Linked DNA regions of Homo sapiens: all the other regions are reported to be linked to region 2. Evidence: microRNA targets listed by miRTarBase, many of them from high-throughput screens and not tested one by one. Region 2 holds a microRNA gene; each other region holds the end of a gene's coding sequence.

Region 1 (10,941 bases), not on the chromosome of region 2:
AGCCTCCCGAGTAGCTGGGATTACAGGTGGATGCCACCACGCCTGGCTAATTTTTTATATTTTTAGTAGAGATGGCATTTCACCATGTTCCCCATGCTGGTCTCGAACTCTTGAGCTCAGACTATCCACCCGCCTTGGCCTCCCAAAGTGTTAGTATTACAGGCATGAGCCACCATGCCTGGCCACAAATTCTTTTTTTACTTTTAATTTTCCAGATATTTGAAAAGGACATGCACTAAACTACTAGACAGAATGTTGTAGTTAATATGCAAGACACTCCATTTATCTTAGCTTCAGTTTCCTCCTATGTAAAAGGGAACACCTACCCAACCCATCTCATGAAATGAGTGTTGAATGAGATGATGTACACAAAAGCTTTTTGTAAATTGTAAGAGGCTACATAAATGTAAGTTGTTAGTATAATATAATCTGGGTATTATAACATGATTCTGATTTTGTTGACCAGCCACTTATGAATCAGTGTTGTTCCATCAACTACAAGAAATAAAGGGAGTTCAGCAAGATGAAGCTCTCCAACTGCCAAAAGACCTAGATTATTTGACTATCAGGGATGTGTCTTTGTCCCATGAAGTTCGAGAGAAACTACATTTTAGTCGTCCACAGACGGTAAGAAAATAGGCAGGAGAATAGAAACAAGTTATAGATAAAGATACAGTGCTTTAATTTTTTAAACCTGGGGTTATAATGGCCATATAACTAATGTTTTATTTAGTAATAAGAAACTTCCAGCATGGGCAACACAGCAAGACCCCATCTCTACAAAAATACAAAAATTAGCTGGGCATGGTGGCATGCACCTGCAGCGCCAGCTACTCGGGAGGCTGAGGTGGCAGATACCTGAGCCCAAGACACTGAGGCTGCAGTGAGCCATGATTGCACGACTGCACTCCAGCCTGGGCAACAGAGTGAGACCCTGTCTCAAAAAAAAAAGAAACTTGACCTCAGATTTTTTTCTTGTGTTTCTAAGACAGATGTTGGTATGTTTGTATGAGAGATGATAAAGCTTAACTTTAACTAAATAACTGGAAGTCAAGAATTGGTTTGATTGGAACTATTCTCTAGTCCCAACCATGTGATAAAGCATCAGAGCAAACTATGCAAGATAGTACACGTGTATGGCTTAAAGGAAACCATACTAGATTAAAACATAACTCATATTTGTGATTTTCAAGTCACTACTTGGAGTCCTCCCTAGGAGTTCCATAGTGTTGCCTTGGGAACTAATGGGAGAAAGAGGGGAGCCAAAAAATGCCCCCACCACGTGCTTCAGACTAATTGTGAGAGGGTATATGCATGTTCCTTTGTGTAAACAAATAAACTTTTAATTTACTATATAGTAATTAGTATTGGGCTTCTAATAAATGTTTAAAGACTGATAAACTGTACTTACTGATTCTGAAATACACTTTTCTCCACATTTTAACATCTCTAAAATTGCATCTTTTTTTTTTTTGAAATGGAGTCTCACTCTGTCACCAGGCTGGAGTGCAGTGGAACGATCTCGGCTCACTGCAACCTCTGCCTCCTGGGTTCAAGCGATTCCCCTACCTCAGCCTCCCAAGTAGCTGGGACTACAGGCGCATGCCACCACACTCAGCTAATTTTTTTTTGTACTTTTAGCAGAGACGGGGTTTCACCATGTTGGCTGGGATGGTCTCGATCTCCTGACCTCATGATCTGCCCGCCTTGGCCTCCCAAAGTCCTGGGATTACAGGCGTGAGCCACCGTGCCTGGCCAGTTGCATCTTTACTATCTCAAAAATTGATGGTGTGTCACAGTTTAATGGACATTTTTTTTTTAGTAGTGTTTCATAAAATAAAGGGGCATATTACAAAAATATAGACTGTAGAAAAATTTGAAAAAAACTATTTTTACAGGGAGGAGTAATTTCATTAATATAAGATGGTATTCTTAGCAACAGTCATCATGGAAACCAGGAAAATAAGCCTTAAATTTTATGACTTTGTCCCTTCCTATTGATTTCAGGTTATGTTTGTATGGATAATCATAGGCTACACTGCCACACTGTCCAACATGATAGCCACTCGCCAATTGTGGTTATTTACATTAATTAAAATTAAATAGGCCAGGTGCAGTGGCATGCACCTATAGTCCCAGCTACTTGGGAGGCTGAGGTGGGAGGATCGCTTGAGCCCAGGAGGTAGAGGCTGCAGCAAGTCATGATTATACCACTACATCCCAGCCTGGGTGACAGAGTGAAACCCTGTCTCAAAAAAAAAAAAAAGAAAAAAATTAAATAAAATGTAAAATTCAGTTCCTCAGTCTTACTAGCCACATTTCAAGTGCCCAGTAGCCACATATGACTAGTGGCTACCATATTGGACACTGCATTATTGCAGTGCACATGTTATAGAAGATTTCCATCATCATAGAAAGTTCAGTTGGACAGCACTGGTCATAGGAGTTCAGAACTCCTTGCCCACAATTCTATAATACAAAAGGCTCTGGCAGAAGTTTGCCACAAGCTCATTTGGTAGCAAAACTGAGCTCAGCTCAGAAGAGGCTATATGGTCTTTATACTGTTCAGAGTGAATATTCATACATTTCACTGTAAAAATACACTGCAGAAATATTAATAGGATTAAAAATGTGGGGCGCTGCCCCACACACTGCTGAGGCTGTTACATTAGGTACCGCCTCAAGGATTAGATATATCTTATTACAAAAACATATGGCTTCAAGGATTTCATTTCATTTTATTTTTTTGAGAGAGGGGCTTACTCTGTCACCCAGGCTGGAGTGCAGTGGCATAATCACAGCTCACTGCATTCTCGACCTCCCAGGCTCAAGTGATCCTCCCACCTTTGTTTTCTGAGAGGCTAGTACTACAAGTGTGCACCACCATCCTAAGCTAATTTTTGTTTATTTTCTGTAGAGACAGAGTCCCACTATTTTTCCCAGGCTGGCCTCAAGAATTTCAAATAAGGGACTGTGGACCTGTATTTGAAGAAAGGAACTTGATTACAGTTTTTCTTAGTTTAATGGGACAAAAAAGTAGATACTCTAACATCTATTAGTTATGTAATCTTGCACAAGCTATTTTAACATTTCTGTGCCTCAGTTTCCCATTTGTAAAATGAAGACATAAATAATAATATTTCCTTTATCTACTTTACAAGGAAATATGTTAAGATAATACATCAAAATAATAATTAAGAAAATATTGTATAAACTATACTATACAGATTGTTATTTGGAGGAAAATAGATTTGATTTGACATAGCATAGCTCACTTAGTTTCTCTTGTGGTATTGATTTTTAGATCGGGGCTGCTAGTCGCATACCCGGAGTAACACCTGCCGCCATCATCAATCTGCTGAGATTTGTGAAGACCACTCAACGAAGACAGTCGGCTATGAATGAATCATCCAAGACTGATCAATACTTATGTGATGCAGACAGACTTCAAGAGAGAGAGTTATAGCTTTCAATTCATAAAAGATTTTTAAAGAGCATATAAATAATTTGATCAATACAACAGTATAGATAAAAGAATTATTTAGCACATGTTAAAATAGCTTTATTAGGTTACTATGGGTTTGCCATTAATTTCTGAGTGGGACAGAAATTATAATTGTGCTTTTTCGTGTATATGAAAAAACTAGTCGTAAACAATTTGTACTCTTTCTTTAAGGAGCTGTAATACAAATAACTTTGTGCAGTGTTCATCAAAGAGAGAGACAGTGAACCTAAAACTGAACCTGGAATAAAACTCAACATGCAGATTTGCCTACTCATAGGGACTTTGCCTATTAAGTCTACCAAATTAAAAGTCTTATCATTCAGCGTGTTTTGAGAGTTAATAATCTTTTGCTTGGTTATACTAGGCTAGGAAGCAATATCAAAGCCCTTAAATTCTCAAGACTAAAGACTTGAGATTATATAAAATTATCCAGAATCATTCAGCTAATACTATTGGAATATAGTATGTAGGGTGAAAGTTGACAGAAATCTGTACTTCTTCAGGAAATCCTCACTGGTAATTGTTTTGAACATTAATGAAAGCCCTATAAAATAGAAAGATTGGAAATCACCATTGTTTCCTATTATCCACAGTGTGGATGGATACTTATTTGGTGACCTAGTTATGGGAGAATTGAGTAACGTTAGTTATTTTATATCATACCATAAAAATATTTTCTTAAGAAATTGTCATGGCCATCATTTCTTAATAATGAAGACAGGTCCATAGTAACTGGTGAGTGGTGTTTCCCTGTTTTTAAGTCAGAATGACAGAAAAAACAGAATAGTGGTAGTACCCCTCTTCCTCTCCAGTACTTCAATGGTATGTCTTCACAGGGGTTAGAGTGGGATAATCAGCTGGGCCTTTTGACTCAGATACCTCAGATACCTCAACCATTCTAAATAGACTAAGGGATGAATACAGCCAAATGGGCCAGACAGCCCTGCTTGTCTCTGGAATTCCAACCCAGATCTCTGGTGTCAGCCTAGGGAGAAGCTCCCGTGTCACCTTCGGGCCAAAGCAGGTACTCAGGAGAGTTCTAAGGGCCCCAAAGTCACTTTGGCTACAGATGTGTATGTTAAGCCTGATTATGGGTGTGAGGCAACCAAGTATCTTGTTACTATAATTGCATATGGCCACTTGGAGGTAGCTTAGTTTTCTTGGGTTTATTTTATCTAATTTTAGTCTTTCCAGAAAGCAGTAAGATTAGTAGCAAGTAAAAAGTATTTGTAGTGCTGGATAATTTAGGAATGATGAATATTTTTTAATACTTGATTCAGTGATTTCAAAAGGTCGTAACTTTTAGTCATAGCTACTCCTGGGCAAAATTCTTCTTACAGAGACAATATTAATTACAATACCACATTGTGTATATATTTTGAAAAGAGGCTGGTTGCAGCAGCTCACGCCTGTAATCCCAGCACTTTGGGAGGCTGAGGCGGGTGGATAACCTGAAGTCAGGAGTTCAAGACCAGCCTGGCCAACATGGCAAAACCCCATCTCCACTAAAAATACCAAAATTAGCCAGGCGTGGTGGAGCAAGCCTGTAGTCCCAGCTACTCAGGAGGCTGAGGCAGGAGAATCGCTTGAACCCAGGAGGCAGAGGTTGCAGTGAGCTGAGATTGTGCCACTGCACTCCAGCCTGGGCGACAGAGTGAGACTGTTTCAAAAAAAAGAAAAAGAAAAGAAGGTATTTTGTGTTTTTGTGCTACCCGTTCAGCAAAATAATGAAATTCATTGTTTCTAAACTTTTTTTTCTGATTAAATACAAGAGTAAAAAAAGTGAATGGAGTGCCTTTTGAATAGAATATAACAAAAATTTATCTTAAAGAAACGGGAAGTAACCTGGCACAGTGGCTCACGCCTGTAATCCCAGCACTTTGGGAGGCTGAGGCAGGTGGATCACGAGGTCAGGAGATCGAGACCATCCTGCCCAACATGGTGAAACCCCATCTCTACTAAAAATACAAAAATTAGCTAGGTGTGTTGGCACGTGCCTGTAGTCCCAACTACTCAGGAGGCTGAGGCAAGAGAATCACTTGAACTCAGGAGGCAGAGGTTGCAGTGAGCCAAGATCATGCCACTGCACTCCAGCCTGGCAACAGAGTGAGACTCTGTCTCAAAAAAAAAAAAAGAAACAGGAAGTTCAAATATTTTGGGAGGTTCTTGACAGCTACAATTTGGGGCTAGTGACACTATACACATATAAAGAAACTTTAAAGTTTCTTAGTAATGAAGGTTTGTAATGCTATTCCATTACAATAGTAACTGTCTCACTGAAAAATGTTTCATGGAAAATACATATTTTAGATTCTATGATTTGCTTTAGGATGTGAACTTCTTTATTTTTTAGAGACAGGGTCTCACTCTGTTGCCCAGGCTGTAGTGCAGTGGTACAATCATAGCTCACTGCAGCCTTGATCTCCTGGGCTCAAGTGATCCTTATGCCTCAGCCTCCCAAGTGGCTGGGACTACAGGCACATGCCACCATGCCTGGCTAAGTTTTAAAAAAATTTTTTGTAGGAATGAAGTCTCACTATGTTGCCCAGGCTGGTCTTGAACTTCTGGCCTCAAATGATCCTCTTGCCTTGGCCTCCCAAAGTGCTCAGATTACAGGCATGAGCCACCACACGTGGCCTGAAACCTCTTTAAATCCACAATGTTTGTATGTTAACTTAAACAAAATTACATCACTTAATATGTCAAAACAGCCTACCCTCTGGTGCTGCTATGCAGAAGTACTACAGAATATGATGCCCTAGGAAGAAATCAGCTAAAAATGTAACCTTACTCAATGTAGTTACTTCATAGAAATCCCATCACTGACAATAATCAGCTGCCAACGAAAGCTGGCCATACTTGTGACTTCCTCTATTCACCACAGACCAGACTGCCTACCAGTTGAAAAAGCCAGGTATTTTTTCAATTCAATTCAACAGGAACACCAAAAAATAAGAAATGACTAAGAAACACTAAGCATTTGTAAAATTACTGGGGGAGGAAGGATGAAGATACGAACCTATGCTAAATTAAACGATTATGGCCTTGAAAATGAAGTTCCTTTATAGCCAAGAGCTTAAATTTTGTTACTGATGGTTTTAAAAGTATTTTGTCATTTTTTAGTTTCAACCTAGATTGGAATAGCCATGGCTTTTCTACTTCAGAAATTTCAACTCCTAGAAGAATGCCCTGTCCAGAAGAAGTGGTCAGGAGTATCAGGAAAGCCACCAGCAGAGACTAGGGGTTTATTCTGATCTGGAAGAGCCACTTAACACTGGAATGCACACAGTGAAAATTAATTGTTCCTCTTACACTCCCTCTCCACAATACTTCTATTATTACACTTACTTCGTTCTACCTTAATGTTTTTATTTAGAGACAAGATCTCACTCTGCCACCCTGGCTGGAGTGCAGTGGCATGATTACAGCTCACTGCAGCCTCAACCTCCCTGGCTCTAGCTATTCTCCCATCTCAGCCCTCCAAGTAGCTGGGACTACAGGTGTGCACCACCATGCACGGCTAATTTTTAAGTTTTTGTAGATATGGGGTCTTACTATGTTGCCCAGGCTGGTCTCAAAGTCCTGGGCTCAATTAATCCTCCCTCTTCAGCCTCCTGTGTAGGTGATAGTACAGGCATGAGCCACCATGTGCCTGGCCCTACCTTAATGTTAATATCTGTCTACCTTAAGAAGATATAAGCCTTGTAAATATAAGCAATATCACAGTTGTAGATACTCGTGCTTTTTAAATAGATTAATGAATACTACTAAAGGCAAGAAATGGTATTACTAAAACTCAAGTGAATAATTAAATGAGATCAAAATATTTGTGACAGGCCAGGCACGGTGGCTTACGCCTGTAATCCCAGCACTTTGGGAGGCCAGGCGGATCACTTGAGCTCAGCAGTTCAAGACCAGCCTGGGCAACATGGCGAAACTCCGTCTTTACCAAAAATACAAAAATAAGCCAAGCATGGTGGCACGTACCTGTTGTTCCAGCAACTTGGGGGCTGAGGCAGGAGAATCACTTGAGCCGGGGAGTTTGAGGCTGCAGTGAGTTGATAGCATGCCACCACACTCCAGCCTGGGCAACAGAGTGAGACCCTGCCTGAAAAAAAGCCCAGGTGTGGTGGCTCACATCTGTAATCCCAGCATTTTGGGATTACAAATCTGCCAGCGCAAGCAGATCACTTGAGGATAGGAGTTTGAGACCAGCCTGACCAACATGTTGAAACCCCATCTCTTATTAAAATACAAAAATTAGCTGGGCGTGGTGGCATGCGCCTGTAATCCGAGCTACTCAGGTGGCTGAGGCACAAGAATCGCTTGAACCTGGGAGATGGAAGTTGCAATGAGCTGAGATCAAGCCACTGCACTCCAGCCTGGGCAACAGAGCAAGACTGTCTCAAAAAAAAAAAATTTGTACAGTCATGTTCAAAGTAGCATTAATTCACAATAGCCAAAAGCTGGAAGTAGCCCAAGTATCCACCAATGAATGAAAGGATAAACAAAATGTGGCATATACATACAATGGAATATTATACAGCCTTAAAAAGGAAGGAAATTCATATACATGCTACAGCATGGATAAACCTTGAAAAAGTTATGCTAACTGAAATCAGCCAGTCACAAAAAGACAAATACTGTATGATTCCCTTTATAAGAGTTACCTGGAGCACTCAAATTCATAGAGACAGTAAAATGATGGTTACCAGGGGATGGGGGAGGGAGAAACAGGAAACTATTCTTTAGTGAGTACAGAATTTCAGTTTTTTTGTTTTGTTTTTGTTTTTGTTTTTGAGATGGAGCCTCACACTGTCACCCAGGCTGGAGTGCAATGGTGTGATCTTGGTTCACTGCAACCTCTGCCTCCTAGGTTCAAATGATTCTTCTGCCTCAGTCTCCTGAGTCTGGGATTACAGGCGCCTGCCATCATGCCCAGCTAATTTTTGTATTTTTAATAGAGACAGGGTTTCACAGGTTGGCCAAGCTAGTCTCGAACTCCTGACCTCATGATCCGCCCACCTCGACCTCCCAAAGTGCTGGGATTACAGGGGTGAGCCACCATGCCCAGTCCAGAATTTCAAGTTTTGCAAGATGAAAAGAGTTCTGGAGATGGTTGATGGTGATGGTTGCACAACAATTTGAATATTTTAAATGCCAATGAACTGTTCATTTACAAATGGTTACGATGGAATTTTTCTTTTTCTTTTTTTTTTCTTGAGACGGAGTCTCGCTCTGTCACTCAGGCTAGAGTGCAGTGGCACTATCTCGGCTCACTGCAACCTCCTCCTGCTGGGTTAAAGTGATTCTCTTGCCTCAGCCTCCCGAGCAGCTGAGACTACAGGCGCGTGCCACCATGCTCAGCTAATTTTTTCTATTTTTAGTGGAGACAGGGTTTCACCATGTTAGCCAGATGGTCTCGATCTCCTGACCTCGTGATCCACCTCCCTCAGCCTCTCAAAGTGCTGGGATTACAGGCATGAGCCACCGTGCACAGCCAAGATGGAAATTTTTATGTTCTTTGTTTGATATGGTTTGGCTGTGTCCCCACCCAAATCTCAACTTGAACTGTATCTCTCAGAATTCCCACATGTTGTGGGAGGGACCCACAGGGAGGTAATTGAATCACAAGGGCCGGTTTTTACCATGCTTTCTTGTGATAGTGAATAAGTCTCACAAGATCTGATGGGTTTATCAGGGGTTTCCGATTTTGCTTCTTCCTCATTTTCTCTTGCCACTCCCATGTAAGAAGTGCCTTTCGCCTCCCGCCAAGATTCTGAGGCTTCCTCAGCCATGTGGAACTTTGGGGACGAAAAGAGGTTTAATTGGACTTAAAGTTCCAATTAAAGTTTCAGGTATGTCTTTATCAGCAGCATGAAAATGAACTAATACAGTGTTTTATCACTTTTTTTTTTTTTTTTTTTTTTTGAGATGGAGTTTCGCTCTTGTTGCCCAGGCTGGAGTGCAATGGCGCAACATCAGGTCACTGCAAACTCTGCCTCCCGGGTTCAAGCGATTCTCTTGCCTCAGCCTCCTGAGTAGCTGGGATTACAGGCTTGTGCCACCACACCCGGCTAATTTTTGTATTTTTAGTAGAGACAGAGTTTCACCATGTTGGCCAGGCTAGTCTTGAACTCCTGACCTCAGGTGATCCACCCACCTTGGCTTCCCAAAGTGGGTGGATGACCTCTGGGATTACAGGCGTGCGCCACCGCGCTCGGTCTATATTCACCAATTTTAAGATGCACATCTTTCCATATTTTAGTATCTCTAAGTTGGAGTATGTCTTACAATTAATGGCATCTGACAGTTATAACTGGCAGCATTTGTGACTGAAAAACATCTTAGATGCAATGAAATACAGTGTGTGTGTTTGTATTGTGCTGCAATATAAAATGTATTTCAGGCCAGGTATGGTGGTTCACACCTGTAATCCCAGCACTTTGGAAGGCCAAAGTGGGAGGATCACTTGAGCCCAGGAGTTCAAGGCTGCAGTGAGCTCTGATTATACCACTGTACTCCAGCCTAGGCAACAGAGCAAGACCCAGTCTCTAAAAAATAAATGAAAATGTTTCTTATTGTGGATCACAGTCAAAAGTTTGAAAAAACACAATCTGTTTGAACAGCACTACTTTCTGACAGGAAAACCCCAACAGGTTAGGATCTGTGTATTCCTCAGAGTAAGAATTTTTCTAAAAAGTTTTTAAAAACTTAAAGTCTTACTGATCTCTTCCTATGCTCCAATTTTATAGATATAACTTAGCCTTGCGAGGTGATGTAATTAAAGTCTAACTTCAAGTTGCTGTTGAGCATAGATCTCAGGTCTTCTGACTTCACAACACCTTTCTGCCACTTTCAGTGGATTTTTCCCTCCTAGGGACCAGAGGTCCTCTACTGGATTAAAAGTTTCTCCATCCCGGCAGGGTGCGGTGGCTCACGCCTGTAATCCCAACACTTTGGGAGGCCAAGGCGGGCGGATCACGAGGTCAGGAAATAGAGACCATCCTGGCTAACATGGTGAAACCCCGTGTCTACTAAAAATACGAAAAATTAGCCGGGTGTGGTGGTGCGCGCCTGTAGTCCCAGCTACTCGGGAGGCTGAGGCAGGAGAATGGCGTGAAGCCAGGAGGCGGAGCTTGCAATGAGCCGAGATCGCGCCACTGCACTCTAGCCTGGGCGACAAAGCGAGACTCTGTCTCAAAAAAAAAAAAAAAAAAAAAAAATTCTCCATCCCTTTTGAACAATCTGGAAGTCTGTTTCTCTTAACCTTCAGTTCCCATTCCAATCCTTTGTAACCTATTTCAGGTTAAGCATTTATGGAGGTGCCATGCTTAATTAGCCATTATGGCACTCACTCTATTTCAAAGGTTATCCCAGAATTTGGAGGCTGTAGGGGAATTCAGAGTGTGAATTTCACTTGAACAGCACCCTCT
Region 2 (10,941 bases):
TTCCATTTGGGTTTTGGAAAGTAAATTTTATTCACCTCACTACCTTAAATGCTAATTGTATGTTTAATTTCTGAGATCTAGAAAGGTTTCTTTACCTATGAGCTCATAAGATAAGTAAATTAGGTCTCTCTTTTCCTCTTTGGTCACTCTTGAGGGCAGTGGGCTTGTGTTAATATATTTATTTTGTCTCTGTACTTAGGTATTTTATGGTTTAAGTTTGAAGCTTCTGTGCCATTTTGTTCCTCTTTTCTCAAAATCTGCCAATTATTGGTAACACGTTTATCTTTTAATGTGAGCATCCCTGTCTGCCTAGGTGAATGTGGGTCACCATATGGCATTGCACCTCAAGTGACTGTGGAGGTGGAGTGGGGTGTGTGGCTGCTCAAGGTGCATGGAAAGCTTATTTTCTATGTGCATGTTCCTGTATCACTTGGTTGGGGGATCCTAATTCATCTAAGGTTTGGCCTTATTTTTCCAATCCCAGAGCCCACTATAAACTCCCATTTCAAAGGCAAAAAAAAAAAAAGTCCTTCTTTTCCTCTTATTCATTCCATCTTGCTCAAATTATTGTCTGCAGTTACTTCAGGTTTGCCCAGCTGTGCTCCTCAGATAAGGTCTCTCAGTAAGTAAATATGGGACTGTTACCCTGGGGACAACTGCGGCTACTGTGTGTTCTGTGTGGAACGTGGGGAGGGGCCTGACGGGTCATCTTTTCCCAGGTATACGTCACGACCCTGACTATAGCTTCAGAGCATACCTTACCCCCTTGCATTCATCCACTCTGAGTTCAGGTATCCTGGAAATTGGTTTTACCTTCAGCTGCTTGCTCTGGTGTGCTCTAGGCTGTGAATTTTTCTCAGCTCGTATTTCACGGTCAGACGTTCTCATCTGCTTTCTTCTTCAGGGTCATATCTAAAAGTTTGATCTGATGATGGCATCCTTTTTCATTTCCTAAGAAAGATTATATTTATACAACATACATGTATGGAATATGTACGTAAATGTTTAGAATAAAGTAAAACATATGTATGTGTTATACAGACACATATATATTTACTTGTCCATTATTTGGAAGAACAAGGAAGAGAGAAGAGTGTTATCATTGGCTGTTTTAGGCTGGACAATCTGAAGTACTCCTCATAAAATTATTGTATCTCCACAGATTATTCAATTCAAATGTTGTTGTTGTTGTTGTTTACCAAAAGTCATACAATAGAATTAGCTTATTTTTATGATTACATGTTAATTTGCATTAAACAGATTTATAAAGCTAATTCATTGTGGTATAAGATTTGCTAAATAGAAGATGGTACAGTGTGGGTCAATATTATTATTGTGATACCCAAAGAAAGACATTTATACATAGTATTCCATAAATATTAACTTTAATTATGTATATGACTTATTTTAAAAGTTTGATATGTATTTTCTTACTTTTCTATGGCCTTCTCTTATTAACTTCATATTAGAATCAAATATTGAAGATTTTATAAAATCACTGAAGCATCAAAATATACTTTTGGAAGTAGATGACTTTGAAAACAGAAATGGTACTGATGGCCTCTCATACAATGGAGCTATCATAGTTTCTGGTAAACAAAAGGTATGTTTGCCTTTTTGCTTTTATGAAAAAAACAAAAAGTACTACATTTTAGCTGTTTTAAAACTGCAGAAATTAAAGCTAGTATACAGAAACTTGACTCAGAAAAACATTCTGGGTTGTTATTTAATAAACTGTGAAGTTTACCTAAGTTTTTGTAAAACATTTTCTATCTTAGTTTTGTTTTGAATTAGATAACTTTTACATTTGAAAGGATCTAAATTTAATTGTACTGTTTAAACTCAATAAAAATATTATAGCTTATAATTATCAACCAATATAATTATGGATTTAAGGAATTTTATTCAGTAGCTAACTACCTGAATAAAGTTTGTTTTTATATATTGAGAAAATACATTAAATACTATAATATCTACACGAAATAACTGAGAAAAAAGTATTCTCAGTCTGCTACCTTAGCATATGTCGATTTGGGTAAAAGAGTCAAGCCATAGAGATTCATTAGAGAACAAGACTATTGAAAATACTTTTTTTGAGGCAGAGTCTTGCTGTGTTACCCAGGCTGGAGCTCAGTGGCAGTATCTTGGTTCACTACACCTCTGCCTCCCATGTTCCAGTGACTCCTGCCTCAGCCTCCAGAGTAGCTGGAATTACAAGCAGGCACCACCATGCCCAGCTAATTTTTGAATATTTGGTAGAGAGTGGGTTTCATCATGTTGGCCAGGCTGGTCTGGAACTCCTGACCTTGGGTGATCCTCCCGCCTTGGCCTCCCAAAATGCTGGGATTACAGGCATAAGCTACCGTGCTCGGTTTAAAAATACATCTTAATGTTAAGAACTCTTCAGTCTTATTTGCATTCTAATAAAAGCAAGGGGCCTAATTAAGTGAAGCTCCCTCTTTATTTCATGCTACAAAGTAAATTTTTAAAAAAGAAAAGCCTTTGAAGTTGTATTACTGAATTCCGTTCTACATAAACTAAATATGCTATAAAAAATGTAATCGCTTTGTGCCAGTTTTGGGAAATTACTTTGTCAGCTACTACGTTACATACCTCACATATTTACTACATGAACTAGTGGTAAGATTTAAACAATAAACCTTCTAATAGATTAATGAACATTTTCCTAAACATGAAGTACATAAATATAAAGATTGCTTTAGGAAGTGGGGAAATGCTTCTTTGGCAGGGTAAGGATGAATATTTAATGAACTCCATGCTTATCTCCTATCCAGAAGGCCAGCATTCCTTTGCTGCTGCTGCTGCTTTTTTTTTTTTTTTTGAGACAGAGTCTCGCTCTGTCACCCAGGCTGGAGTGCAGTGGTGTGATCGCAGCTCACTACAACCTCTGCCTTCTGAGTTTAAGTGATTCTTCTGCCTCAGCCTTCCAAGTAGCTGGGATTACAGATGTGTGCCACCACACCTGGCTAATTTTTGTATTTTTTAGTAAACATAGGGTTTTGCTATGTTGGCCAGGCTAGTCTCAAACTCCTAACCTCAAGTGATCTGCCCGCCTTGGCCTCCCAAAGTGCTAGAATTACAGGTGTGAGCCACCATGCCCAATCTTCCTTTGCTTCTTCATCATAAACTGACAGCATCTCCTTGTCAGGGAGACTTTTAAACTCTACTAAATGAAATTTCCCCATCAGCAAAATGGAGACAAAATTATCTAAAATTAGTAATACAAATAAAAATTCATATTGATTGTATGCTGACTCTGTGCTAGAGCTTAATGTACATGAATAGAGTGTCATTTAAGCCCTATAACAACCCATTTAGTATTTCCTTTTCATAGATGAGGAAGGTAAAGCTCAGAAAGTTTAGTTCACTTGAAGATGGACACACAACAAGCATGTGGCACTGTTAGGATCTTTTATACATAAACCTTGCCTTTGTTCTTTAAGAATTTAGCATTAACATTATTTATTTGTTTCTGTTTTAAGGATTATAGATTTTCAGTTGTGTGTAATACCAAGAGATTGCACTGTTTTCCAATTCTTATGAATATTATCAGCAATGGGCTACTTCAAATGTTTAATCACACACAACATATTCGAATTGAGTCAAGCCCATTTCCTCTTGTAAGTATTGGATTTACTGAGTCTAAACAATTAAGAATTGGACAAATAGCCTATGTTTTCTCTCTTTAGCTTTTAAATATCCATAAGTGATTGTTAAGCCTGAAAATTATTATTTTATCCTAATATTTTCAATGGGTTATAGCAAACAAAACAGGATTTTTTTTTCCTGCCAAGTTATCAGATAATTATCGTGAGGGAATACTTTTCAATATTTTGTCAGTCTTCTAGGCAATGTTTTGAAAAGTTGTACATACTTGATTGTGGAAGTGTATGAGAAAGAGAAACAGAAAAAAGAAAACACTGACTTGGAAATCAGGAGAACTTGTAACCCTGGTTACATATAAATCTATTATAATTAGTTAGTGGACCCTCCATTGACTAAATGTGTAGTAGACAGACTAATATGAAGGAGAATCTGCCAGTTCTGGGGCTATCTGTTGATTTATTTATTCACCTACTCATAGTTGCTCTATGTTGTGAGGGAGCCTAATACACACAGGCTGCATTGGATTCTGTGTCAGTTGGCTATAGTCTGGCTTCAGACAGTTTGGACACTAGAAAGCAGTGGTGGGAGACAGAAGAGCAGAGGACCCCCTACATTGGGCTCCAGTCACATCACCTCCTTCTGCTGTTCCTGAAGCCCAGAAGCAACAATAGCTTGCTTCTCACTTCACCATCTTTGTGGGATGCTCATCACCCACCTAACCATGTCATAAGGAATTGCACTCTAAGAACTTAACGTAGTCATGGTTTTCTGGTTAGACCCTGCCTGATACCAACAGGGGTGTCTCAAAGCTGACTCCAACTGTTTCACACCAGAAGTCTGAAACATCAAGAAGCAGGATTAGAAATGAAGCCATCCAAAGGGAAGTCCATTTTGTGACAAAAGTGTGAAGCTCAGTTTTGGCTTCACTGAATCAGTGGTGCTGGGAGTATATGCAAGCACAGGTTTTCTGTAAGCCATGGGAACAATGGGGATGAAATATACAGTACTTGAGATGTTCGTGACAGACACATACCTCCGTGAGTTGAGTATGACCGACTGATCACGTAAACAGGTCTGCTGCACAGGATGACTCGAGGGAAGGGGTGTCTGAAGGGAATTCTCCAGAAAGTGGAACCAGAGGAGTAGCAGAAAGAGACAGTGATTACCCTTCCTCTTTGGAACGATAGCAGCATGAACCTGTCTCACTGCAGAATTATTTTGAGACAGGCTTATGCTGCTATCCTTCAAAAGAACACATCCACCCAGCTACTGAGGTTTCCATCTCTGGGTTTGCTCAGAAAGACATGCTGCTCAGGCCTGAATTATGTGTTCATCAAAGGTCCTAACTTCTGAATTATTAGCTTCCTAATGCCATTGTGTTTGCTCAGGATCAAAATGGACTGAAGCCCATAGCTACTCTATTAGAAACCTGTTCCCCACTCCCACTTCCCCATGGCACACACCTTTCCTCCCTCATTCCTATGATGAAAAACAGAATTTATAGACATAGCCCTCAAAGTCTTAAATAAAGTTAAATAATTGTGGAATTATTTTGAGACAGGCTCATGCTGTTATCCTGTAATTATATCCATGAGGTGGTCCTAGATGCTGCTAGAGTGTCCACTTGGCCTAGCCTCAAGTGGATGCTGATTTGGGGGTAGTGATTTAAAGTTCCTTTCCCTGAAGTTAAGACAAGCAGCAACAAGTTTTCTTCTTGGTTCTGTGCTTCAGAACACATCCACCCAGCTACTGAGGTTTCCATCTCTGGGTTTGCTCAGAAAGACGTGCTACTCAGGCCTGAATTATATGTTCATCAGAGGTCCTAACTTCTGAATTATTGTTTTTTTGTTGTGGTAATAATACATGATATAAAATTGACCATTTTAGCTGTTTGCAAGTGTACAGTTGAGTAGTATTAAGTATATTCACATTGTTGTGAAATGCATCTCCAGAACTTTGCCGTCTTGCGGAATTGAAACTCGATGCCAATTAGCTTTCCCCCTCCCCCATCCCCTGGAAATAACCATCCTATTATGTTTCTATGAATATTACTAGTTTAGAAACCTTATATAAGTGGAATATTTGTCTTTTTGTAACTGGTTTATTTCACTTAGCATATTTTCCAGGTTCGTCTATGTTGTAGCATGTGACAGGATTTCCTTCTTTTTTTTTTTTTTTTTTTTTTGAGACCGAGTTTTGTTCTTGTTGCTCAGGCTGCAGTGCAATGGGGCGATCTCTGCTCACTGCAACCTCTGCCTCCCAGATTCAAGCGATTCTCCTGCCTCAGCCTCCCAAGTTGCTGGGATTACAGACATTTACCACCACACCTGGCTGATTTTGTATTTTTAGTAGAGATGGGGTTTCACCATGTTGGTCAGGCTGGTTCAGACTCCTGACCTCAAGTGATCCTTTTTAAGGTTGAATAGTATCCATTGTTTGTATATACATACACATTTTGTTAATCCATTAATTTGGACTTTTGGGTTGCTTCCACTTGTGAGTATTGTTGGTATGAATATGAATGTGAGGGTATCTCTTCGAGAGCTTGCTTTCAATTCTTTTGGAAATATCCCCAGAAGTAGGTCCTAAATGACTTTTGACTTCTCTTTGTTCTTTGAGTTGAAGATCAGAGTCACTTTCCCTCCCACCTTCGTGCCTAGATGGTAATGAGCTACACCTTTACTTTGATTTTTCAACATTTCAAAAAGTGCATTTTTGTGGCTATAATTATTTGTTTCATTTAACAAATATTCACTAGTTTAAGCTACCCTTTATATTTTCAGAGCCACATAGGACTCTGGACTGGGTTGCCGGATGGTTCCTTTTTCTTATTTTTGGTTCTATGTAGCATTTCTCCTTATATCACCATGGGCAGCATCAGTGATTACAAGGTAAGAAAAAGCAGGGAAAAGAAGAAATTTCAGGAATTTCAATATCTGTATTTTGAATGCTATGTGTTCAAAATGTTTTCTTCTGACAAAAACATTTGAATGTATGTTTAATTTAGATATTGTAGCTAAACCTTATTCTTGGCAAGTCAGATAATTTACTTCTAAAAACTCAAAATGCTTTTTATTCCAAAGTCACCTGAAAAGTACAGTGATTTTTCAGAGACTCCAATTAGTCTAAACCTTCAAAGGGAAATATTATAAATCTTTTGACCACATTATTTCCCAGCCACAAGAAGGAAATCATTGATGTTGAAATCAAAGGCCAAATTTAAGACTTGAATTCCTTTTCCACTCTGGAAATTGCAATTTTATGTTATATTTGTATTCGATTATGCCCATTATTCAGACAAAGCAGTTAAATCTATCAACGTTCACCATCCTGAGCCAGAAACTCTCCAAGATGTTTAGGTAAAGGTAAATGTATTATGTCCTCCAGGTCACAAAATAATACTTTTTTTTTTTTTTTTTTGAGATGGAGTCTCACTCTGTTGCCCAGGCTGGAGTGCAATGGTGCAAAATCGGTTCACTGCAAACTCCGCCTCCCGGGTTCAAGCAGTTCTTCTGCCTCAGCCTCCTGAGTAGATGGGATTACAGGCTTGCACCACCATGCCCAACTACTTTTTGTGTTTTTAGTCAAAATGGGCTTTCACCATGTTAGCCAGGATGGCCTCAATCCCCTGACCTTGTGATCCACCCGCCTTGGCCTCCCAAAGTGCTGGGATTACAGGCGTGAGCCACCATGCTGGCCAATACTTATTTTTATAGAGTTTAATGCCTTGAACATTATGAGGTCCACTTTTCATTATTCATGAGCTAAAGTTGTGTTATGAGTCAGGCCTATCACAGTATACATTTTATTTTTGATAGACACCTTGTAAACCATGGAACTGGCTCTATAAGCCTCATGTTACTAAGCAGTATATGCATAATTTTTTTTAATATTAGAAGATTAGATTATATTTATCTTAAAAATTCTTCCAATGTGTTTGTGTTTATTTTAGATTTGCATTTTAATTGAATCTATATACATTTCTTTCTTTCTTTTTTTTTTTAATCAGAAAAATGCTAAGTCCCAGCTATGGATTTCAGGCCTCTACACTTCTGCTTACTGGTGTGGGCAGGCACTAGTGGACGTCAGCTTCTTCATTTTAATTCTCCTTTTAATGTATTTAATTTTCTACATAGAAAACATGCAGTACCTTCTTATTACAAGCCAAATTGTGTTTGCTTTGGTAAGTAACACAGTACATAAACCAAATTTCATAAAGTAATTAATAATAAATTTTAACATTGTTATTTTAAGTAGTTAAGATGTTTTAATTCATATTTTGTAATAAACCAAAACAAAAAACATGCAAAGTGCATGTATGATAAATACTAATAGTTTCAGATACCAAAGATGTTTTATACTTATGCCAGGTTACTTGTTTTTTAAAAGTTGTAATCTAATTTTTCCCTCAGTAATATTTGATTTTTTGACTATGTTATTATTTCTTTTATGCTCAGGTTATAGTTACTCCTGGTTATGCAGCTTCTCTTGTCTTCTTCATATATATGATATCATTTATTTTTCGCAAAAGGAGAAAAAACAGTGGCCTTTGGTCATTTTACTTCTTTTTTGTAAGTATATAATACATACAAATAGAGAAATAGTGTTATTTTTTAAACTTCTAATGTAATCTTAAATACAGATGTCTGCCTTAAGACAGTAGGGAAAATTAATACTTCAAAATTACACCATAGAAAAGAGAGGGAAGTGTAACACTGTTACTGAATCAATAATATTTCTAAAGAAATCAGGTGCTACCCATTGAACAGAATTTATGGAGAATCTTACAGAAGACCTGACGTCTGAAACGTCCTGTTGAGTTTATGTCTCCAGAATACAGGGCTTCCTGCCAACACTAGAAAATTGGCTTCCTAACAGTTGACATTACAACCCATCTCTACAGTCTTCAAGAAGGTCTCTCTTAACCTTAGCTGCTAATAGTTTCAGATACTAAAGATGTTTTATACTTATGCCAGGTTACTTGTTAGTATAAAAGTAAAGAGCTTGTCCAAAATCATGGAAAACTTTGCTGGAAATGTTTGCTGAAATTCTAGAGACACCAGAGTGCCCTGAGTCCTACACTTCAGGCCTCCTTTAACTGATATCCTCAACTGGTGATTGAATGTCTGTCTGGAAAACAGCTCTCAACTCTTGGAATGGGAATCTTGAATCCATGAGAAGAACCCAACCAAAGATCATCTATAAGAAATGATATATTTAATATTAGGTTGGTGCAAGAGCAATTGCGTTTTTTTTGCTATTTAAAGTAATGTCAAAACCGCAATTACTTTTGCACCAACCTATACGACCCACTGACTTCTACAAGAAATTAGTCTGGGACTCTTTTGGCCAGCAGGTAGCTGTTGTTCCTTCTCAGTGGACAGCACTTGGGTTTGACTTCTCTGGGCTATATTTCTTTGTATTCAGCAAACAGTGTCTATAACTATATCTCTTACCACCATCAGCACAATCCAGTGGAAGTACAGAGGCTACAGAAAGAACATTAGGCTCACCTTACTCGGAAAAACTGGCTTTGAGGCAGCCATGAGGATCTGGTGCACAAAAGGTCTTTCCATTTATCCTTTCCATGGAGACTATTTTTTGTTCAGTCAACAGACTTACTGCCATTGTCCAGTGTAATCTCAGGTGCTAGATCAGATGTCTGTAGAAGAGAGTCTTACTGACACTTGGTTGGTTTCTTTTCAGTCAGCACTCTTGTATCTGTCTAGCAAAGGTGAACAAAGAATTCACATTCATTCTTAGTGTTTGCCAGTAGTTTTAGCTCTGAACGAAGTCTACCTTGGAGGTGATAGCCAAGAAATGTCAGGGTTATTGTCCAGCGTGGTTGCGCATGGGTCTGCTCCTGCCAGCCTGAGTGATGCTGCAGATGCCCTAGTGAGTGCCCCTCATAGATGCTTTTTCAGCAGCTTGTCCTTCAGTCCTAAGTAAACAGCATGCTGGAATCAAGCTTCCTTTTGTGGCTTTTGCCACTCCTTGTGTTGACCCTTATTACACAGAAATCATTCCAAACTGGAACAAATGCACATCTAGATGGACACATTTTTTGCTATGTGCCTCATGAAATAGTTGCCCCTGGCTTACCGTATACTCACAACTTATCCCAGTTTGTATAGAGCTGGAAATTTCTCAGACAAGAGAGCATTCAGCATCAGTGATAGAAACATACCTCAGCCCTTGCCTTTTAGCTTTTAGTGGAGAAGCTGAGCAGGTTTAATTTCCTCATGGCTGCAGGCTCCATAGTGATGCTTTGGGTTGGAAAACATTATAGACAAGATTTTCTCAGCCAAGTTCCAGGATTTCAAATCTGTGCATCAATTCCATAGACTGTGACAGAACTTCTAGAACTTAATAGGCCAGAATCTTCCAAAACAATAAGTTTCATCTCTAGGCTTAGAGAGCAGAAACCATTTTCCCATTGTGGAGTAAGGAGTGAGAGTCCAGTGAGAGGAACTTTCCTTCAAAAAATGGCAGAAGACAGAATCTGCATTATCATATTATGAATGCCCCTTGTATATACGGCAGCAAGTGAATAGATGAACAAAAGAAGAAATTTGACTTTGTTCTTTCTAAGGAAAGATGATAATGCAGAACCACTTCTTAGGCTTGTGAACTAACATGGTGATTAAGGTGTTCTCACTGTGATTTGAAAAAATTATCACAAATAAAAGATCACAGCAGAAAATCAGACATGACACTGAGAAACACTGTATTTTTAAAATCAAAACACATACACGTATGATTGCATGCCTTTTATCCTTTGCTGCCATTTATGCTTAAGTTGTTATGGATTCAAATAAGGCAAGACAATATTCCAGAGGCAAGGTACGTTTTGGAAAACAAAGACTGTTCAAAATATAAAAACAAAATTACACCGCAGTGTAATAGTAAAATATGTATTTATATATTTGTAATTTCTGATTGTTTTTCCTTTGCCCTTCTTATGCTTATCTATTTCAGTATATTTATTTATTTCATTTTTCTATCACTGAAAGGAATCTACATATTTCTAGAATGGTGGAATGTCAGACTTGAAAGAAATTCAAAATTGTCTAGTATGATTTACCAAATTTTATAGTGTTGCAGGAAATTAAGGAACTAGAGAGACCGATCGGGATACAGGAGAGCTTTTATTTTAGGTGTATATCGGCTCAGCAGACATGTGTCCTGAAAGTCTGAGCCCCTAACAAAGAAAGCGAGCAACTTTTAAGCATTTTGGGGCGGGAAAAACTTGAAGCAGGAAGCAGGTTTGCAGAAGTGAGAACAAAGGCTGTTTATCATTTATGCCATGACTTG
Region 3 (10,941 bases), not on the chromosome of region 2:
ACCTTAGACAAGTCATCTAGCCTCTTCAGACCTCTTTCTTCCTAATCTTTAAGATAAGAGATAGGATTGGATTTGTTGATTTCTGGGTTCTTTTCCAATTCTTTATATCTATACTAGTAGGTATAAATTCTAGAGCATGTCATGAATTGAGGAAGGCTTGGCTATATCTGAGATACGACTGTAATAAAAGTGGTTGAGGTCTAAGGCCACTGCTATCAGTATAATAACTTCACAAATGGGGATAACTGAAAGCCCTATGTCCAGAGTAGTTGGCAAACCTGGACTTTCTCCCTCAGATAATACTGATGTCAAGAGGTCTAGCCCAGTCCATATCAGACAGCCATGCAAAATTCCAGATGGAAAATCATATTTAAAGTCACAGTAACATTGTGATCTCTATTAAGCACAACTTCAGCTACTAGACAAGAATGTGGGACAGAAAAGCCAGCTCACTGAGGACAAAGATGGGGGAGGTGGGAATGTGGCTGATCAGGACCAGGCAAAGAGTTAGAACTCCAGCCAAGAGTACCAAGGTTCAGTGCAGCTTCATTGCCATTAAGGGAACTGAGAGTTAGGCAGGGACACTGAAACAGGAACTCAGATCAGAGAATGAAGTTGATTTATAAGGGGGAAGATAAAGTTTACTAGATAAAAGAGTGCTCAGGACTCCTTTTCAGCCCACTGGATACTGTGTGCAAAGCTGCAGTATTTGTGTGGGAAGATCCTGCTAATGTAAATTTGCCTTGGGTCAGTTTGGCTCTGGGGCCTAGCAGATGATCTTGAAAAGCCCAAGAGGTATGTTTGGTTGTGCCCTGGCTTAATTGGAGATGAATATAGCATTTCATGGGCTGCAGGATACACGGGGAACACTGTTGTTCCTTTATGATTTTTCTCAAAGTCTACTTCTTGCTAGCTCCTGGGACACTGTGACTCAAGGTAGACCTTCCTGTCTCTGACTTTGGAGGCCAGTGTCCCAGATAAGAGTTGTTGCTTAGGCCCTGGGTGCATGGACATGAAACATGAGCAATGAAGCATTTGGACTCCAGGGTCCAGAAGATGAAAATGAGAAAATATCAGAGAGCTGCCTCAGAAGAAGAGAGATGGGTAACCCTTTTCTGCTCTCCTTCTATCCTGAAGATAATAATGTGGTAACCTGCTTGGAATATGAGGGCAGGCAGTTTCCTCACTGTTTTTATAAGGGCTAGGAAGGCTAGACATTTTCTTACTTTGGAAAACTGTTTTTCAGGAGTCACTGACTTACACACATACTGGGGTGAGATGTATGTGCGAATTAAATCCAGTGTAAGGTTGCAAGAGAGAAAAGTGCAACTGTGGCAAACTACAGAGCACATCCCTTATCTAAAGGGGAATCCCACTACTTGGATCCAGCTGTTTGTAACCATATGGAAATATTTAATGTTGCAAGATCTTCTACATTTTCAAGAGAATTCAGAAATCTGGATTTTTTTTAATGAAGTTGTGTTAACCATAGTCAATGAATTTGAATAAAGAGCAAAATCACAACCAAAGCAAAGAGGACAAACACAAATCCCATAGGTTCTCAGTTTGTGACCTGATGTTGAACCAGATCCATGCATGAAGGGGGTATTACTTTTCTATCATGGCCATAACAAATTGCCACACATTTAGTAGCTTATTATCACAGTTTCCATAGCTCAGAAGTTCAGTAGGCTCAATTTTGTCTCTGCTTAGAGTCTCACAATGCCAAAATTAAGATATTGGCAGGGCTGTGTTTCTTTCTGGAGTCTCTGGGAGAGAATCTGCTTGATCATGCACAAAAGTGGCAGAATTCAGGTCTATGCAGTTAAAGGACTTAGGTCCCATTTCCTTGCTGGCTGTAAGCTGAAGGTCATTCCTAGCCTCTAGGACCACTTACATTCTTTGGCTCATGGCCCCCTTCTATTTTCAAAACTAGCAATGATGAGTTGAGTTCTTCTCATGCCACATCTCTCTGATACTCTCTGTCTCCTCTGCCTTCCTCTTCTGCTTTTAGGGACACAGGATTACATTGGACCCATAGAGTAATCCAGGATTCTCTCCTTATTTTGAAATCCATAACTTTAATTCCATCTGCAGAGTCTAGTTTGCCATGTAACTTAATGTACATAGACATAAGACCAGGCCATGAAGATTATGGCAAGGGAGATGGTATCAAAATCCTGTTTCCCACAAAGGTTTCTTTTTCTCTAGAGAAATTGATTATTTTCTCTGATCCAGTACCAGCTAGCCTCAATCTGATACCTGAATGTAAGTATGTTTCTCAACTGTGTCACCTCAGCCTGGTGCTAGGTGCTCTAGACCCCAGGGAGAGGAAGGAAAGAATCAGCTCCCAGACCTTTACCTGTCTTGTACTCAGTACCCAGTGCCCAGCTGAGAAGAGCCCCTGCTTTTGGGTAACCCAGTGGCTTTCTGCTTCGAGTTGCAGGAGGTTTGCTGCAGTTTGAGGCTGATAAAACAGCAAAGGAGGAATCTCTCTTCCCCGTGCCACCCAGCAAGGAGACCAGTGCTGAGTCCCAAGTGAGTGAGAACATCTTTCAGACCCAGCCACTTAACCCTATCCTCGAGGACGACTGCAGCTCGACTAGTGGCTTCCCCACACAGGAGTCCTTTACCATGGCCTCCTGCACCTCAGAGAGCCACTCCCACTGGGTCCACAGCCCCATCGAATGCACAGAGCTGGACCTGCAAAAGTTTTCCAGCTCTGCCTCCTATACTGGAGCTGAGACCTTGGGGGGAAACACAGTCGAAAGCACTGGAGACAGGCTGGAGCTCAATGTGCCCTTTGAAGTTCCCAGCCCTTAACTCTAATGAGGTGAGCTGGAAAGGTGGATCAGAAAAAAACAAAAAAAGCAAAACAGAAATTAAGGACTAACCTCAAGGAATTCTCTTTTGGAATAGTATTATTCACTAGGAGTGGAGGAACAGCAGCAAGCTAGGAACACTTTGGGTGGAGGGGCAACAGTGGTGATGCTAAACTTTTAAGCCAGACAGATATCACACTTCTGGGTCTACAATTGTCAGGGAACTGGCAAGGTTGTCATGATACCAGTCTCTCCATTCTGGTCTTTCGTAAGCTCTCTCAGGGCCCCACTATCTAATGGTCATATTCAGGTATCTCCCTTTATGTGTGCAAGCAGCATAGCACAGTAGAAAAAGATATACAAGCCTTGTCATCTGGAAACCCTACATTTCAAATCAACCTTCATTCCCTAATAACTATACAAACCTTGTGTGTATGTCACTTCATTTTACATTTTACAGAGGCAGGAACTGAGACACAGAGAGGGAAAGTTAGTTTCTCAAAGTCACAGGGCAAATTAGTGGGCTAGAACTGTGCAAGAACCCAGGTTTGGGGGCTACATTTTAGAGTTGGTTCAACTCCACCATTGCAACCATTTGATAGCCAATGTTACTTTCTCAAAGCTTATGTAGCATGAGGTAGGAGAGTAGGTAGATTCCCAGTTTTCAACTAACCAAATATCTTGCAGTGCCCACTTCCGTATTTCTTCAGTTAATACATTTTCAGTTCTCCCAATGACTTCCCTGCTCCCTGCATCCAACCTAAGAAAACGTGAACAAATGTATATTTGAAAGTCATAACTGATATCAAATTTGAAAGTTATAACTGATGTCAAATCAATCAACTTAGGTACCTTCAAGGTTATCTAGTCCAGTTCTTCTTCCAAGGTTTGGGTCCATTTTATAATATCCCCACTAAGAGTTTGTGTAGTCCTTGCTCACATACTTTAGGTGGCAGAGGGCTGACTACTTCTCAATGTATATTACAGTATACACAATTGTGACTGGTGGGTTTGAGCTCAATGTAAGAAAGAGCTTTCCCTGTAGTACCCGCCTATCCATCCTGGCTCTGTTCCTCGTGCCAGACAGACCTCATCAGTTTCCTCTGCTTTAAGATAGCCCTGCAGAGGCTTGAAGACAACACCACCTCTCTGGAGAATACCACTTTAGGTTCTTCTAAAGTATGTGGAGCTTAGAACTAAACCTATCTTCAGGATAAATGGTTTCAACAATGTAGAATAGGGTAGAATTGTCATATCCCTATCTAGGTAATGTCTTTCTGCTATTACATCCTCAACCATTGGCTTAACCTATGATATTTGGAGGGGTAGAGAAAGAAGGGTGCTAGTGAGATTTCCCCACATGTTTCTAACTTGGTTTGCTCTCTCCTTAGGTCTCTTGGGCCCCTGGCAGCCTTGCCCAGTTGTTCTCTCTGGACTCTGTTCCTATACCACAACAGCAGCAGGGGCCTGAAATGTGATGTCCACAAGAGCTAATACCCTACAGATGGGGCATATCCTATCCCATCCCACCAGAGGATTGATTCTCCATTTCACAAGGACTGATCTGGAGCATTTCTTGCTTCCCTTTTGTAGTCTGGGGAGCCAGATTCCACATTCATGGGACTACCAGACATGTTCCTAGCTCAACTTGATTATAGAGAAGAGGAGAGAGGACAGTGAATGGGGTAGGGTTTTCATGTCTGCATTTTTGGTCAGGTAAGCCTCTCAAAATTGTGTTGGCACATCTACCTAGCACTTTAGGGACAAAATCAAACCCTTCTCCCCTTTTAGCTCCTCCACACTGTCTCCCTCCTCAACACACACACACACACATACACACACATATACATAGACACACAAACACACACACACACATTAATATCTATCTTGGGGGAGGCCTCGTGCCATAATTCCCAAGTTCATGTCTCAGACTGCTGCATTGCAGCATGAGGCAGGGCAAACACTTTCCCTCTAGATCCCTGGGGCCTCACCCTGTATTTGAGGTTCTCACCACCCTCAGCAGGGAGAAGGGCTGAAGTTCGCCATTTTGGAACCTTACAGAACATTTCTGAGCCAAAGTAATCTTCCTTCTGGGGCCTGAGTTCCCCAAACTACCCCACAGCAGTCCCTCAAAGACAGCCCTCAATCCATGTAGGGACATCTGAGTATGCCTCTTTCTATTGAAATGTCAATTCAATCCCAGCTTTCTCACCACCGTTCCCCTTTGATTCTTTCTCAATTGTCTTTTTGCCTTTAGCTCCCACCTATACATCTCATGCTCAGAGAAAAACAAGTTCCTTAGAGGTTGTATTCTTTATTCTCCAAGAATCTGTCTGAAACTTGTACAGCTAGTTCCTGTCCCACAACTATTAAGTGGTTTATTAAGTACATTAGGCAGAATGTGCACTTCATCACCAGGTTCTAGCTCTGGCAAAGGAGTGCTGTCTACAGCAAGATTTTTGCTTTTAGAATTTTATTAACTACATCTTTTGGGTTCATCCATCTACAAACACTGATTAAGGGCCCCTGGGGCAACCAATTGATCAGATTACTAAAAGGACTTGGGAAAAAGCAAAAAGGTCCCATTGTACTGGACTGAGGATTAGAAGCAATTGAAATACAAGCCTGTACCAAGCAAGCAGCCTGGCCCCACACAGGTATTAGCAAATATGTGGTAACCAAGGTTTTAGGCCTTGGCCTTTAGGTTTCCTGTTTTTTTTTTGTTTTTGTTTTTGTTTTTGTTTTTCTGCAACAGGTTATTCTTATCTCACTGGCTTTCACTGATCATGTTTAGACCTTCTGGTAGAAGAAATAATATCCAGACAGGGGATGATTTGGCTTCAGCAGGCTGCAGGTGTTCAAAGGTTGCCATGTGGCTGGCAGTGGTTCAAGCCCACATTTGACACTGCTGCTCTAGAGGAAAGATAATGATGGTAACACAGTAATAATAATAATAATAACAAAAATATGATAAAGTGAAAGAGTAAGACTTCTTCAGTGTGCTTGCTCATGGCATGAATGCTATGTGGACAGCCCAAGCCATACCCAGAATCACCTTAATTCCAACTTTTTGAGGTTCAGCAATTGGAGGTGGCAATTGGCTTTGCATTTTAAAGTATTTCGGGTAAAGGTGAAGTGAAGGATTTTCGTCTTTATAATTTCTGTTTGGCCATGGCAAATACCATAGTTGAGTATTTGCTTCAGGAGAGTTCTTTTTACAGTTTTACTTTTCAATGCTGAGGCATATTTCTTTGAGCACTGTGCTTTTATGTGTCTTTCTACAAAGGGGTTATTGGTCAGTGGAAGAACAAAGTACACTTGATAAAAACATTTTCAACATACATTGAGCCTAAACAGCAGTTAAGTTGTCTCTAAATGAACTAGCAAAAAAAAAAAATGTAGTTTTTGTTTGTAAGGAAGGGGAGGTATTTCCTGAGAATGAATTTTTTTTTTTTTGGATTACTGTTTTTCTCTCCATATACCTTGACTTGGATTTTGACAGGAGGGAGCCTGGGAAAATAATTTTTTCCTCCAAGATTCTCAGATCCAGGTTAGGAAAGGATTCAGCACTACAGCATACCCCTCTACAACATACAGCCCTGTCACATTGAGATCATAATCCCTCCTGTCCCACTCCTCTCTACCAACCCCACCCTACTAGCTAGGTCTTCAGTGTTTTACATTGAATATTGGTACATTTTAATTATTTTTTCTCATAAATGGGTTATTTATAGAAATTTTGTTAACTCTTGAGCCATATGCATGTGTAGATACTGGCAGGGCTATGTTTGTTTATGATGCTCTGCAAACATTTCATATTGGCCAATAAACAGAAATATATCCAAAAACCTTGTTTATTCCTCTACTTTCAGAGAACCTGGTGAATCATTTTGCTCATGTGTCTTTTCTTAGTGAGCACAGCAAAAAAATGTGTTTCTGATCATTGGACATGGCATCAGTAGTGATGGGATTCACTGACTTGTCACACAGGAGATCTGGGTTATAGTTCAAGCTCTCTTTCTTTTTCTAAAATTGTTTATGCCATTTATATTCTCCTCTGAGATAAGGATCTACTAGAAATTGTTGTGTTCTAAACTAATACTTATCAAACAGGGTTCCATGGTCCTAAGGGAACCGTGCACTGCACATCTTCTGAGGTCTGCAAAATCTTTAGGAATTTCAGTGTGTGTGTGTGTTTTCATTTTGATCATAATGTCTTAAAATACAAGCATATTCTAGCTAGACCTGTTAAGAGTACTGCCTTGCCATTTCAAGGTCTGTATTTGTGTTGATAATCTTACCAGGTTAAAGAGACCACCTAAAGAGAAACTATTTAATTTTGAATGCTATACTTTACTATAATTTAATTTAAGAGATAGGAAAATCAAGTTTCCTTCCATCTTTAATATTCTGTAATCTTTACAACAATACATGTTGGCAAGGATGTGGAGAAATGAGAAGCCTCATGTATTGCTGGTAGAATTATAAAATGGTATAGCCTCTTTTCAAAACAGTCTGACAGTTTCTCTAAAAGCTAAACTTGAGTATGATCCAGTAATATCACTCCTAGATATATACTCAATATAATTAAAAACATATGTACACACAATACTTGTATACAAATATAGAAACATTATTTATAATATCCGAAAAGTGGAAACAACCCAAATGTCCATCAACTGATGAACAGATAAAAAGTTGTGGTATATACATATAATAGAATACTATTCAGTAATAAACAATATTGAACTTCTGACACATAATACATTGTAGATGAACCTTAAATCATGTCAAGTAAAATAAGTCAGATACAAGAGACCACATATTGTATGATTCCATCTATATAAAATATCCATAAAAAGCATGCTAATCAAGACAGAATGTAGATTAATGGTTGCCTTGGAATGGGCATGAGAAAAACAATTAAATGTTAATAGGCATGATGGATCTTATTTAAAGGATAAAGATGTTCTAAGATTTAGTTATGCTGATGTCTTCCCCACTCAATAAAGTTAATAAAAATCATTGACTTGTATACATGAAATTATGAATGAATTTTATAATATTTAGAATATTCCTCAATAAAGCTGTTTTAAAAATATTCTATGATTACTGATCTCTGATCTCTGAGTAGACTGCTATTGGTTTACTAATTTACTTTCTTAAAAATGTTCATTACTAGGGCTGATTCCATAACCAATCTCTCTCTCTCTCTCACACACACACACACACACACACACACACACACTCACAACTTAATTGCTCAGTTCAGAGCAAAAGAAAGAGACAGAACTTGAGTCCTTTTCCGTTCTCTTCTTTTTAGTCTCTCTAGACCCTATGTAGCCTAGAGAAAAGAGGGAGAGAAAACATCTAGGCAGAACTTAGAGGAGGACGATTTAGGAGGTATCACTCATACCAAAGGAGAAAGGACGGAGGAAACCACTAAGGCTTAGGGGTGTGCATAGGAAAAGATATATTGGGAAATAACTATCACAGGCTGTAGAAGGGCTTATTGAGGGAACCACTACAGAATGGGGGAGAAGTGACTGGAATTACCAGGAGGTAAGAGGCCAGAACTTGTGTATTTATCATGCCTCTATTTGAGAAAAGGCATTTTTTAAATCCTAACTGGGCCTTGCATTCTCACTTGATAAAATTATGAATGGTGGTACAGTGGGGGAAACAGAATCCTCTGATTTATGGATGATGATAAAGGCATAGGAAGGGTTAGCATTTAGGCAACACTTCTCTGTTTTGGAGTTGATTTGTGTGTGCCTGTGTCAGTCAAAGGGCAGTGAGCCCCCACTGTATACCCCAGAAGGACATGGGGAACCAGATCTCTGGGAATAGATGGATCAAAGCAGCAAACAAGTCATCAAACTGTCAGACAAGATTCTTAGGTGATTGTTAATAACCTTTTCATTAGGGACTAAAATCACTTGCATATTTCTGGGCTGGTATGATGCTACTGCATTTTATGCTCACAGTGTGATTGGCAAGTTTCTATGTACCCAGCAGTTAGGCTTTTAAGTCCTCAGAAATTGTGTACACATGAGTGTTAGGGGTTCACCTGCTGCCTGTCCAGATAAAATGGATCCCCACTGAGGGCAGCTGTGCAGTCACATGGTTATCTTCTACAAAGCCTTTCTTCCTTGTGGTTTCTAGTGAGAGCAAATTACCTTCCTTAAGACCTCCTTTCTAAGGAGTAGTGCAGTGAAAGAGAAGGTGGATGAAAAACTAATATTTAGTGATTATTGCTGGTGTGCTTTTTTACTTCCATACTTTGTCTTATTTAATACTCATGATATTCCTAGGTGGTAGGCATTTTTTACAATCTTTATTTAACAAAAGAAGAAACTAAAGTTCACAAAGGTTTAATAATTTTTCTGTGAATATACAGCAGCAAGTGATATGCTGAATTTCAGCCCAAGACTGTGACTCTGAGGCCCAGCACTGTCCACTACACCACAGATGCCTCCTTAAGACAGGCCTCAAAAAAGAGGATGTTTATCCCCTTGAGTCCCTCATAGTGTTCAGCTTGGAAAACTACATCAGACAGTCTCCCTAGGAGTTTCCAAAATCACATACTAGTGTCAAAATATCATCAGTTATTATAAAATCAGTTATTATAAAATCAGTTATATAAAATCAGTTATTGCACTTATAAAAATGCAAAATGCTCAAGAAAGTCTCAGCAATAGAATCAAACAAGTAGAAAAAAGAAATTCAGAGCTCCAAGACAAGGTCTTTGAATTAACCCAATCCAACAAAGACAAAAAATATATAAGAAAATATGAACAAAGCCTCTAAGAAGTCTGGGATTATGTGAAATGACTAAATCTAAGAATAATTGGCATTTCTGAGGAAGAAGAGAAATCTAAAAGTTTGAAAAGCTTATTTGGAGGAATAATTGAGGAAAACTTCACCAGCCTTGCTAGAGACCTAGACATCCAAATACAAGAAGCACAAATAACACCTGGGAAATTCATCACCAAAAGATCATCAACTAGACACACTGTCATCAGGTAATCTAAAGTTAAGAAGAAGGTAAGAATCTTAAGAGCTGTGAGACAAAAACACCAGGTAACCTATAAAGGAAAAGCTATCGGATTAACAGTATATTTCTCAGCAGAAACCCTACTAGCTAAAAAGGATTAAGGCCCTATCTTCAGTCTCCTAAAGCAAAACAATTATCTGCCAATAATTTTGTATCCTGTGAAAATAAGATTCATAAATGAAGGACAGATACAGACTTTTTCAGACAAACAAATGCTGAGAGAATTTGCCACTACCAAGCCAGCACTACAAGAACTGCTAAAAACAGCTGTAAATATTGAAGCAAATCCTGGAAACACATCAAAGCATAACTTTTTTAAAGCATGAATTTAACAGGACCTATGAAACAAAAATACAATTTAAAAAACCAAAACAAACAAAAAACCAAGGTATAGAGGCAACAAATAGCCTGATGAATAGAATGGTACCTCATATCTCAGTACTAACATTAAATGTAAATAGCTTAAATGCTCTACTTAAAAGGTACAGAATTGCAGAGTGGATAAGAATTCACTAACCAACTATCTGCTGCCAAAAGCAAGCAGGAGTAGCTATTCTTATATCATACGAAACAAACTTTAAAGCAAAAGCAGTTAAAAAGACAAAGAGGAACATTATAAAATGATAAAAGCCCTCATCAAATAGGAAAATATCACAATTCTAAACATATATGCAAATAACACTGGAGATCCCAAATTTATAAAACAATTACTAATAGACGTAAGAAATGAGATAGACAACAACACAGTAAGAGTGGGGGACTTTAGTACTCCACTGACAGCACTAGACAGGTCATCAAGAGAGTAAGTCAACAAAGAAACAATGGATTTAAACTACATCTTAGAACAAATGGAATTAACAAATATATACAGAACATTTCATCCAACAACCACAGAATACATATTCTATTAAACAACGCATGGAACTTTCTCCAAGATAAACCATATAATAGGCCACAAAGTGAGCCTCAATAAATTTAAGAAAATTGAAATTATATCAAGCATTCTCTAAGACCACAGTAAAATAAATCTGGAAATCAACTCCAAAATGAACCTTCAAAACC

Evidence for each region. Region 2 holds the annotated microRNA hsa-miR-4524a-3p (UGAGACAGGCUUAUGCUGCUAU, at 4,847-4,868, shown strand). A microRNA usually pairs through its seed, bases 2 to 8, with sites in the 3' UTR of a target mRNA and lowers its output. Matches are read on the target gene's strand: a 7mer-m8 pairs with bases 2 to 8, a 7mer-A1 pairs with bases 2 to 7 and ends in A, and an 8mer does both.
Region 1: miRTarBase lists MTO1 as a target of hsa-miR-4524a-3p. Seed matches in the 3' UTR shown: 8mer at 5,620-5,627, 8mer at 5,774-5,781, 8mer at 7,906-7,913 and 8mer at 10,701-10,708.
Region 3: miRTarBase lists EDA2R as a target of hsa-miR-4524a-3p. Seed matches in the 3' UTR shown: 7mer-m8 at 4,624-4,630 and 7mer-A1 at 4,745-4,751.

Annotation. Positions count from the first base shown.
Region 1 is chr6:73,497,270-73,508,210 of GRCh38, forward strand. MTO1 (mitochondrial tRNA translation optimization 1) reads left to right here. Exons shown (of 12, transcript NM_012123.4): 11 at 467-627; 12 at 3,305-10,941. The coding sequence ends at 3,466. Among named protein-coding and RNA genes, the nearest start is that of EEF1A1, 18 kb to the right of the region's middle. RefSeq lists a silencer at 6,284-6,484.
Region 2 is chr17:69,093,497-69,104,437 of GRCh38, reverse strand. It overlaps MIR4524A (microRNA 4524a), which reads left to right and starts at 4,806; the gene lies at 4,806-4,874. ABCA6 (ATP binding cassette subfamily A member 6) reads left to right here. Exons shown (of 39, transcript NM_080284.3): 21 at 1,470-1,603; 22 at 3,504-3,641; 23 at 6,411-6,518; 24 at 7,637-7,810; 25 at 8,085-8,198. It overlaps MIR4524B (microRNA 4524b), which reads right to left and starts at 4,896; the gene lies at 4,782-4,896. It also overlaps the pseudogene SEC24AP1. RefSeq lists an enhancer at 496-790.
Region 3 is chrX:66,591,366-66,602,306 of GRCh38, reverse strand. It overlaps EDA2R (ectodysplasin A2 receptor), which reads left to right. Exons shown (of 7, transcript NM_021783.5): 6 at 2,447-2,833; 7 at 4,214-6,670. The coding sequence ends at 2,823. Among named protein-coding and RNA genes, the nearest start is that of EDA2R, 42 kb to the left of the region's middle. RefSeq lists a silencer at 540-639.